Linked DNA regions of Homo sapiens: region 2 is linked to region 1. Evidence: fine-mapped expression QTL. Tissue or cell type: aorta. Region 1 holds a variant in brackets; the other region holds the start of a gene. All regions are shown on one strand. Distances are from middle to middle.

Region 1 (5,000 bases):
CTTTGTCTCTATCTCTCTGGTGAACAGCAAGGAGATCCCTAGGTCCCCATCTCTGAATCCCCTGGTGACCTGAGGAGGGTCCCCCAGAACATGCCTTGGGAGGGGGAACCCCCTGAGTGCTGGGAACCGCCACTCCACGTGCACCCCAACAGGCGGCTACAGCGTCTTCCTGTGGGAGGGGGGCCCGGGGGTGAAATATCACCACTGGGTTCCAGGACAGACCGCCAGGGCCAGTGGCAGTTGTGGGTGTGGTGTGTGTGCACCTGTGTCCCTGAGGAAGCGTGGAGGTCCAGGGCATCTCAGAGCCTGGGTGATCCAACACCGTCATTTTTTTTTTTTTTTTTCTGAGACGGAGTCTTGCTCTGTCACTCAGGCTGGAGTGCAGTGGCGTGATCTTGGCTTGCTGCAACTCTGCCTCCTTAGTTCAAGCGATTCTCAAGCCTCAGTCTCCCAAGTAGCTGGGATAACAGGCACCCACCACCACGCCCAGCTAATTTTTTGTATTTTCAGTAGAGAGGGGGTTTCACCATATTAGGCAGGCTGGTCTCGAACTCCCGATCTCAAGTGATCCACCCGCCTCGGCCTCCCAAAGTGCTGGGATTACAGGCATGAGCCACTGTGCCTGACCACGCCTTCATTTTTACCTAAAGAAATGAAGATGGCAGGCAGGGCCTGGCGGCTTGTGCCAGCACTTTGGGAGGCCAAGGCAGGTGGATCACGAGGTCAGGAGATCGAAACCATCCTGGCTAACATGGTGAAACCCCTTCTCTACTAAAAATATAAAAAGTTAGCCAGGCGTGGTGGTGGGCGCCAGTAGTTCCAGCTACTCTGGAGGCTGAGGCAGGAGAATGGCGTGAACCCGGGAGGTGGAGCTTGCAGTGAGCAGAGATCACACCACTGCACTTCATCCTGGGCAACAGAGCAAGACTCCATCTCAAAAAAAAAAAAAAAAAAAAAAAAAAGAGAGGCCGGGCGCGGTGGCTCACGCCTGTAATTCCAGCACTTTGGGAGGCTGAGGCGGGCGGATCATGAGGTCAGGAGATCAAGACTACCATCCTGGCTAACATGGTGAAACCTTGTCTCTACTAAAAATACAAAAAAATAAGCTGGGCGTGGTGGCGGGAGCCTGTGGTCCCAGCTACTCGAGAGGCTGAGACAGGAGAATGGTGTGAACCCGGGAGGCGGAGCTTGCAGTGAGCCAAGTTTGCACCACTGCACTCCAGCCTGGGCGACAGAGCAAGACTCCGTCTCAAAAAAAAAAAAAAAAAAAAAGAGAAATGAAGATGGCAGGCTGGGCACGGTGGCTCACGCCTGTAATCCCAGCACTTTTGGAGGCCAAGGCGGGAGGATCACTTGAGGCCGGGAGTTCAAGACCAGCCTGGCCAACATGGTGAAACCCCGTCTCTACAAAAATACAAAAAAATCAGCCGGGCTTGGTGGCGGGTGCCTGTAATCCCAGATACTCTGGAGACTGAGGCAGAGGAATTGCTTGAACCCGGGAGGTGGAGGTTGCAGTGAGCCAGGATCGTGCCATCGCACTCCAGCCTGGGCGACAGAGAGAGACTCTGTCTCAGAAAAAAAATAAAATAAATAAATAAATAAAAGAAGAAGAAATGAAGATGGCAGTAAATGCTCAGGCACACCGGACAGCAGTCATGTGGTTTACTCCCACACACACTACACTGGGGAGTGGGCGCCATCATCCCTATTCTACAGAGGGAAACTGAGGCAGAGAGGCCCACTGTCTGGGATTTGAACTGGGGATGCCTGGCTCCTGTCTGTTTTCTTAGCCACTCCCCACACACCCCAGGTCAGAAGAGCAGCAGCTGGAGCTGAGACCCCCACCAGGCTCATGGCCCTTCCCTACTCAGTTCCTGAAACTCCACCCTCAAGCCGAGCTCGGGAGGCTGAGGCGGGGAGGATCGCTTGAGGCCAGGAGTTCAAGATCAGCCTGGGCAACAGAGCAAGACTCTGTCTGTAAAATAATTTTTTGAATTATTTTTAGGCCGGCCACAGTGGCTCATGCCTGTAATCCCAGCACTTTGGGAGGCCGAGGTGGGTGGATCACGAGGTCAGGAGATCGAGACCATACTGGCTAACACAGTGAAACCCCATCTCTACTAAAAATACAAAAAATTAGCCGGGTGTGGTGGTGGACGCCTGTAGTCCCAGCTACTCGGGAGGCTGAGGCAGGAGAATGGCATGAACCCAGGAAGCGGAGCTTGCAGTGAGCTGAGATCATGCCACTGCACTCCAGCCTGGGTGACAGAGTGAGACTCCGTTTCAAAAAAAAAAATTATTTTTAATTTTTTGGCCTGGCATGATAAATTATTTTATTTTAAAAATTTTGAGTCAGGAAATGTGGCTCACGCCTGTAATCCCAGCACTTTGGGAGGCCAAGACAGGCAGATCACCTGAGGTCAGGAGTTCGAGACCAGCCTGGCCAATATGGTGAAACCCTGTCTCTAGTAAAAATACAAAAAATTAGCCGGGTGTGGTGGCAGACTCCTGTAATCCCAGCTACTCAGGAGGCTGAAGCAGGAGAATCACTTGAACCCAGGAGGTAGAGATTGCAGTGAGCCAAGATCACAGCATTGCACTTCAGCCTGGGCGACAGAGCAAGACTCTGTCTCAAAAAGAAAAAAAAATTTAGTGCACACCTGTGGTCCCAGCTACTTGGGAGGCTGAGGCAGGAGGATCTCTTGAGCCTAGGAATTGGAGGCTGCAGTGAGATATGATTGCACCACTGCACTCCAGCCTGGGTGACCAAGCAGGAGCCTGTGTCAAAAAAAAAACAAAAACAAAAAAACCCGCCCCTATGGGAACAGGGTGACAGACTCTTTGGCTTTGAGCATCTGAGTGGGACATGACATCTGCTCACTCTGAACGACCGTCAGGATCTGAGCCTGAGAGGGGTCAGCATCCTCCTCCCACAAAGTGCATCACCCTTACGCCTCCTTTCCCACCCTGGGATCCCCTCTGACCCCCTTTCCTTTCTCTGTTGCAGCATTCTGTGTCTGGCTGACTCTGCCGGGAGCTGAAACCCAGGACTCCAGGGGTGAGTCTGCTGGGAAGCAGAAAGCACAGTCCACAGCCAGAGCCTGGGGAGGG[T/C]CCTGGACCCCCGCCCAGCCCCCTTCAGCCCAGGGAAAGAGAGGGCTCGCGCACGAGAAACTCAGCGCCCTGCCCCATCTCCCCCAGTGCCCCCTTTTTGTGTATTCCCTTACCCCTCACCTTCTGACCGTGCTCCCTGCTCTTGCAGGCTGTGCCCGGTGGTGCCCTCAGAACTCCTCGTGTGTCAATGCCACCGCCTGTCGCTGCAATCCAGGGTTCAGCTCTTTTTCTGAGATCATCACCACCCCGACGGAGACTTGTGACGGTACAGAGGCTTGAGGGCAGCGCAGGGGACATCCGCGATTATGAGGCATTGCCCAGCCAGTGGGGGACAGAGGTTGTTGTGAGGGGCCACAGCCTTACCTTCCAGACTATCATCATGGCCAGAGAAAAGAAAAAGAGGGCAGGCGTGGTGGCTCACGCCTGTAATCCCAGCACTTTGGGAGGCTGAGGCGGGCAGATCGTTTGAGGCCAGGAGTACTCAGAAGACTGAGGGGAGAGGATTATTTGAGCCCAAGAGTTTGAGGCTGCAGTGAGCTATGATTGCACCACTGCACTCTAGCCTGGGCAACAGAATGAGATCGTGTCTCAGGGAGAGGGAGAGGAAGGGGAAGAGGGAGAGGGGGAGAGGAAGGGGAAGAGGGAGAGGGGTAGGGGGAGGGAGAAGGGGAGGGGAAGGGGGAAAGGGAGGGGGATGGGGAGGGAGAGGGGGAGGGGAAGGGGGAAGGGGAGGGGAAGGGGAGGGGAAGGGGGAAGGGGAGGGGGATGGGGGAGGGAGGGGGGAAGGGGAGGGGAAGGGGAGGGGGATGAGGAGGGAGACGGGGAAGGGGAGGGGGAGGCAGAGGGAGAGGAAAGGAGGCAGGAAGGAAGGAAGGGAGGAAGGGAGGGAGAGAGATAGGCCCGGCATGGTGGGTCATGCCTGTAATCCCAGCACTTCAGGAGGCCGAGGTGGACAGATCACTTGAGGTTGGGAATTCGAGACTAGCCTGGCCAACATGGTGAAACCTCCTCTCTATACTAAAAACACAAAAAATTAGCCGGGGGTGGTGGTGGTCACCTGTAATCCCAGCTACTCGGGAGGCTGAGGCAGGAGAATCGCTTAAACCTGGGAGGTGAATGTTGCAGTGAGCCGAGATTGCGCCACTGCACTCTGGCCTGGGCGACCAGAGCAAGACTTTGTCTCAAAAAAAAAAAAGAGAGAGACAGAGAAGGAGAGAAAGAGAAAGAAAAGTAGGCCCGGCATGGTGGCTTACGCCTGTAATCCCAGCAGTTTGGGAGGCCAAGGCGGGCGGATCACCTGAGGTTGGGAGTTCGAGACCAGCCTGACCAACATGGAGAAACCTCATCTCTACTAAAAATACAAAATTAACCGGGTGTGGTGGCCCATGAGCACATGCTTGTAATCCCAGCTACTCCGGGGGCTGAGGCAGGAGAATCGCTTGAACCCGGGAGGCGGAAGTTGCAGTGAGCCAAGACCGTGCCATTGCACTCCAGCCTGGGCAACAAGAGTGAAACTCTGTCTCAAAAAAAAAGAGAAGAAAAGAACAAGAGAGAGAGGGAGGGAGGGAGGGAAAGAAGAGGGAGGGAGGGAAGGAGGGAGGAAGGAAGGAAGGAAGGAAATAAGGGAAGAATATGAAGGGGGAGAAGTAAGAAGTGAATAGGCATGGCTTCCTGGAGAGAGAGAAGCTGGGTGCTCAGGAATCTGGAGTCTGTGCCTCAGTTTACCCTTAAGACTGGGGAGGGGGTACATTCTGGCTATGAGGTTTTTTTTTCCTTTTTTTTTTTTTTGAGACAGAGTCTCACTCTGTCACCCAGGCTGGAGTGCAGTGACCCGATCTCGGCTCACTGCAACCTCCACCTCCTAGGTTCAAGCGATCCTCCTGACTCAG
Region 2 (5,106 bases), 390 kb after region 1:
CAAGCTGAGATCGTGCCACTGCACTCCAGCCTGGGCGACAGAGCAAGGCTCCGCCTCAGAAAAAAAAAAAAAAAAATGATGGCGCTGGATCCCCCAGGCTCTAAGATGCCCTGGAACCGCATGCTTCCTCAGGGACACAGGTGCACACACACCACAACCGCCGCCAGCCCTGGCGGCCCATCCTGAAACCCAGTGGTGATATTTCACCCCGGGCGCCCCTCCCACAGGAAAACGCTGTGGCCGCCTGTTGGGGTGCATGTGGCGCTGCGGTTCCCAGCACTCAGGAAGTTCCCCTTTCCAAGGCATGTCCTGGGGGACCCTCCTCAGGTCACCAGGGGCTTTAGAGATGGGGACCTAGGGATCTCCTTGTTGTTCACCAGAGAGAGAGACAAAGAGGCAGAGGTAGAGAGAAAACGGAGATTAGGGAGATAGAGAGACTGAAAGAGAGACAGAAGGAGAAAGACAGAGAGAGAGAGAGAAAGAAGGGAGAAGCTGGGGGTACCCTGCAGTGGAGAAGTCCTGGCCTCTATTTTCCCCGCCCCCCGCCCATGTCTTTCTATGCGCTATATTAAGAGCAGTGGCTCTGGGGTCCTAGCACTCACTTTTTGCCCCTTTCCTTCCCCCGTGCCTCAGTTTCCCCTCTTATGGAGCAGATGCCAAACTGGCTCCAGTAGAAAGCTTGAGGATCCCTCCGGGCAGGGTAGCAGGCTCCGAGAGCACCCTGGAGTTCCTGCCGGGGTGTGGGGGTGCCCAAGCACCACCAGCCCCTCTCGCCGTGTGCCCGTGAGTGCCTGCTTGACCATGTGGCTTTCTCCATCGCCGGCCCCACAGACACCAGCGGCGCCTCCCGTTTCTCAGACGCATCCAAGGGGTCCCGCTGGAGCTTCCTCGCTACCACCCCCAGCGGGGCCCCAAAGTACTTACCGAGAAAGACGAGAAAGACGCGGCCTCCCATGGTTCCAGCTGAGCTGCCGGCAGGAGCAGCAGGGGAAAGAGTGAGTGGGACAGGGCTGTCCCGTCTCCGCAGGCTGGGCAGCTGTGCGGGCTGTCCCGAGGCCAGGACTTTATAAAGGAGGGGGGGCGGACAGCCGCTGGCCCAGGGCCCTCCCCGGAACTGGCGGTGCAGCTGGAAGCCAGCAGGAAAGCACAATAAAAACACAGAACCAGGGGCGCTGCACACACACACACACACACACACACACACACACACACACGTGTACTCGCTCAGCAAGAATGAAGTGCAACCTGCTTTAAAAATCCCTCTGCTGGAGTTTCCACCATGTGGCTCTGACCAACCCTCTGGCCTCTGTGTGTTCCAGGCTGGCTGCTGTGCAGGGGAAGGTGTGGCAGCCGGGCGGGGCGGTCTCGCCTGGGGCCACTTGGCTCTTCCCTGGGCAGGCACGCAGGGGCCTTGTCAGAAATAGCTCTGGGCTCCCACTTTGGTAGGGCTCACCCTGTGCCCAGAGCTTTGGCATGCCAGAGTTGGCAGAGCCTGCGTCCCAGCTGGCAGTATCTTCCCCTGCTGTTTTCCAGATGAGGAAACTGAGGCCAGGTACAGAGGCTCACGCCTGTGATCCCAGCACTCTGGGAGGGCGAGGCAGGAGGATCGCTTGAGCTCAGGAGTTTGAGACCAGCCTGGGCAACATGGCGAAGCTCGGTTTCTTTCTTTCTTTTTAAATTAATTAATTAATTAATTAATTAAATTTTTTAGACTTTAAGTTCTAGGGTACATGTGCACAACGAGCAGGTTTGATACATAGGCATACATGTGCCATGTTGGCTTGCTGCACCTATCAACTCGTCATTTACATTAGGTATTTCTCCTAATGCAATCCCTCCCCCAGGCCCCCACCCCCCGACAGGCCCCAGTGTGTGATGTTTCCCGCCCTGTGTCCAGGTGTTCTCATTGCTCAGTTCCCACCTATGAGTGAGAACATGTGGTGTTTGGTTTTCTGTTTCTGTGTTAGTTTGCTGAGAATGATGGTTTTCAGCTTCATCTGTGTCCCTGCAAAGGACATGAACTCATCCTTTTTTATAGCTGCATAGTATTCCCTGGTGTATATGTGCCACACTTTCTTAATCCAGTCTATCATTGATGGACATTTGGGTTGATTCCAGGTCTTTGCTATTGTGAATAGTACCGCAATAAACATACATGTGCATATGTCTTTATAGTAGCATGATTTATAATCCTTTGGGTATATACCCAGCAATGGGATCGCTGAGTCAAATGGTATTTCTAGTTCTGGATCCTTGAGAAATCACCACACTATCTTCCACAATGGTTGAACTAATTTACATTCCCACCAACAGTGTAAAAGCGTTCCTATTTCTCCACACCTGTGATCCCAGCACTCTGGGAGGCCGAGGCAGGAGGATCGCTTGAGCTCAGGAGTTTGAGACCAGCCTGGGCAACATGGCAAAGCTCTGTTTCTTCAAAAAGAAAAAAAATTACCTGGGCTTGGTGGCAGACGTCTGTGGTCCCAGCTGCTACTACTCAGGAGGCTGAGGCAGGAAGAATCACCCGAGCTGGGGAGTTTGAGGCTGCGGTGAGCTAAGATGGTGCCACTGCACTCCAGCTTGGGTGATAGAGTGAGACCCTGTGTCAAAAACAAAAAGAAAGAAAGAAAACTGAGGCATTACAGTGTCCACATAAAAGCCCAGGGAGGGAGAAGGGGCCCTCTTCCGATGCCAGGCAGGTGCCAAGAAGAGAAGCTTCACCGCACAGAGCAGACCCCCCGGATCTTTCTGGTCTTTCTAAGCCAGTTTCCTCCTGTGGGAAACTTATATTTCAGAGGCCCCTGGGCACTTCGTTAATCAACAGAGAATCATGTGATAGGAGGGTTCTTTCCTTTCTGGATAAATCATATGATTAGCTTGTCTCTTGAGGTACGTAATCATTTTTTAAAACGCTATATATATTTTTAAGAGATCTTACTCTGTCACCCAGGCTGGAGTGCAGGGTCACCATCACAGCTCACTGCAGCCTCAAACTTCAGGGCTCAAGGGATCCTCCTGCCTCAGCCTCCTGAGGAGCTGGGACTACAGCTGTGCACCATCACGTCTGGCTAGTTTTCTCCTTAAGTGTTTTTTTTTTTTGTAGAGACGAGATCTCGCTATCCTGCCAAGAAAATGCTATTATTTATGGAGCACTTAATTTGTACCAGGTCTGGTCCTAAGTGCTTTTTTTTTTTAATCTATATTAACTCATTTACTCCTTAAAACATCTGCAATGATGTTGTCATTCCCATTTGACAGAGGAGGAAACTGAGGCACAAGTGACTCACCCAGCTGAGACTCAGATCCACAGGCCGGCAGCCCAGCCCTGGAGTCCCTGCGATGAGCCCAGGGGAAAGTCTCCACTGGGCACTAACATGTCTTTAGCGCCTCCGTGACCCTGAGGCTTAGCAGGTGTCTGTATCCAGCCAGAATTCAAGGACTTGGTTTTGTGTTCCTCATATTTATATTTATTTTTAGGTTTCCCTACTATCTGGGGCAATGAGGAGGGTTTTTCAGTGAGGATGCCGAAATCAAGTCTCCTTGTTACATGAGTAAATTCAAGATGCAGAAGTGATGAATGCTAAGGAAAATATAGTTCAGTTGTTCAAAGGGGGAGATTGCAGCGATGGAGAAAAAAGTCACTAATGACTGAAGTCAGAGAACTATTGTCCTGGGAATAATCAAACATCCACAGTCCTAGAATTTACCCCTTCCTGTCCCGGGCTCCTGTGGGGGTGGCCTGGGCTGTGGGGGAGGGGAGTGAACACCAGCAGAAGCTGGAAGGAGAGAGGGCCAGACCAGGTCTGGAGGGATTTTGCCTTTTTTTTCTCAGAAAGCCAGAAACTCCAGCTAGAACCCCAGGGCTCAACGTCCCTTCTCTGCAGATCAGACGGGCAGGTCAGACAGCTGGCGTCTGCAGAATCTCAGGGAGGTAGTGGCACTTCCTGATGCCAGGGATTGTCCCTACACCCCTTCATGGTGATCATCGACTCTTCTTAATTTAATTTTATTTTACTGTATTTTAGAGACAGACTCTGGTGTTGCCCAGGTTGGAGTACAGTGGCGCCATCTCGACTCACTGCAACCTCCGCCTCCCGGGTTCAAGCGATTCTCCTGCCTCAGCCTCCAGAGTAGCTCGGACTACAGGTGCCCACCACCACACCTGGCTAATTTTTGTATTTTTATTTTATTTTATTTATTTGTTCATTCATTTATTTATTTTGAGACAGAGTCTCGCTCTGTCACCCAGGCTGGAGTGTGGTGATGTGATCTCAGCTCACAGCAACCTCTGCCTCCTGGGTTCAAGAGATTCTCCTGCCTCAGCCTCCCAAGTATCTGGAATTACAGGTGCAAGCCACCACGCCTGGCTAATTTTTGTATTTCTAGCAGAGATGGAGTTTCGCTATGTTGGTCAGGCTGGTCTCGAACTTCTGGCCTCAAGTGATCTGCCTGCCTTGGCATCCCAAAAGTGCTGGGATTACAGGCGTGAACCACAATGCCCGGCCTGAAACATTCTTTTTAAATTTTTATTTTATTATTATTATTATTATTTATTATTACTTTTTTCTGAGACGAAGTCTTGCTCTGTCACCCAAGCCGGAGTGCAGTGGTGCTATCTCGTCTCACTGCAATCTCTGCCTCCCGGGTTCAAGCAATTCTCCTGCCTCAGCCTCCCGAGTAGCTGGGATTATAGGCACCTGCCATCGCATCTAGATAATTTTTGTATTTTTAGTGGAGACAGGGTTTCACCATGTTGGCCAGGCTGGTCTCGAACTCCTGTCCTCAAATGATCCACGCGCCTCAGCCTCCCAAAGCGTTGGGATTACAGGCGTGAGTCACCATTCCTGGCGGCTTTCTTGAGTCTCTCCAATACTTCTCACCATCTCCCTTCTTCCCTAGCAACCATCTGCCCTCGAGCCGCATTAGGCTGTCAGCCCCCTGAGTGACTTTTGTCTTTTTCTCTGCAGAGCACCAGCACAGAGCCTGTGCTGAGTGGGGCCCTATATGGTAAACCATGCAAATTAGTAGTACTCCTGCCACTCCACTCCGCTGCCGCCCAGCTAAAGGAAGCCTCCTTCAGCCTCGCTGATCTGGTCCCTGCCGGGG

Evidence for each region. PIP is the estimated chance that this variant, and not a neighbour inherited with it, causes the effect.
Region 2: ADGRE2 starts here. The variant in region 1 is fine-mapped to the expression of ADGRE2 in aorta (GTEx, PIP above 0.99). The same link has a PIP of 0.9 or more in tibial artery.

The regions. Positions count from the first base shown.
Region 1 is chr19:14,385,443-14,390,442 of GRCh38, forward strand. It overlaps ADGRE5 (adhesion G protein-coupled receptor E5), which reads left to right. Exons shown (of 20, transcript NM_078481.4): 2 at 3,008-3,058; 3 at 3,260-3,376. Among named protein-coding and RNA genes, the nearest start is that of ADGRE5, 6.5 kb to the left of the region's middle. The variant T/C (reference allele first, on the strand shown) is at 3,112.
Region 2 is chr19:14,775,802-14,780,907 of GRCh38, forward strand. ADGRE2 (adhesion G protein-coupled receptor E2) reads right to left here and starts at 2,759. Exons shown (of 21, transcript NM_013447.4): 1 at 2,456-2,759; 2 at 925-1,126. The coding sequence starts at 955. RefSeq lists an enhancer at 236-295.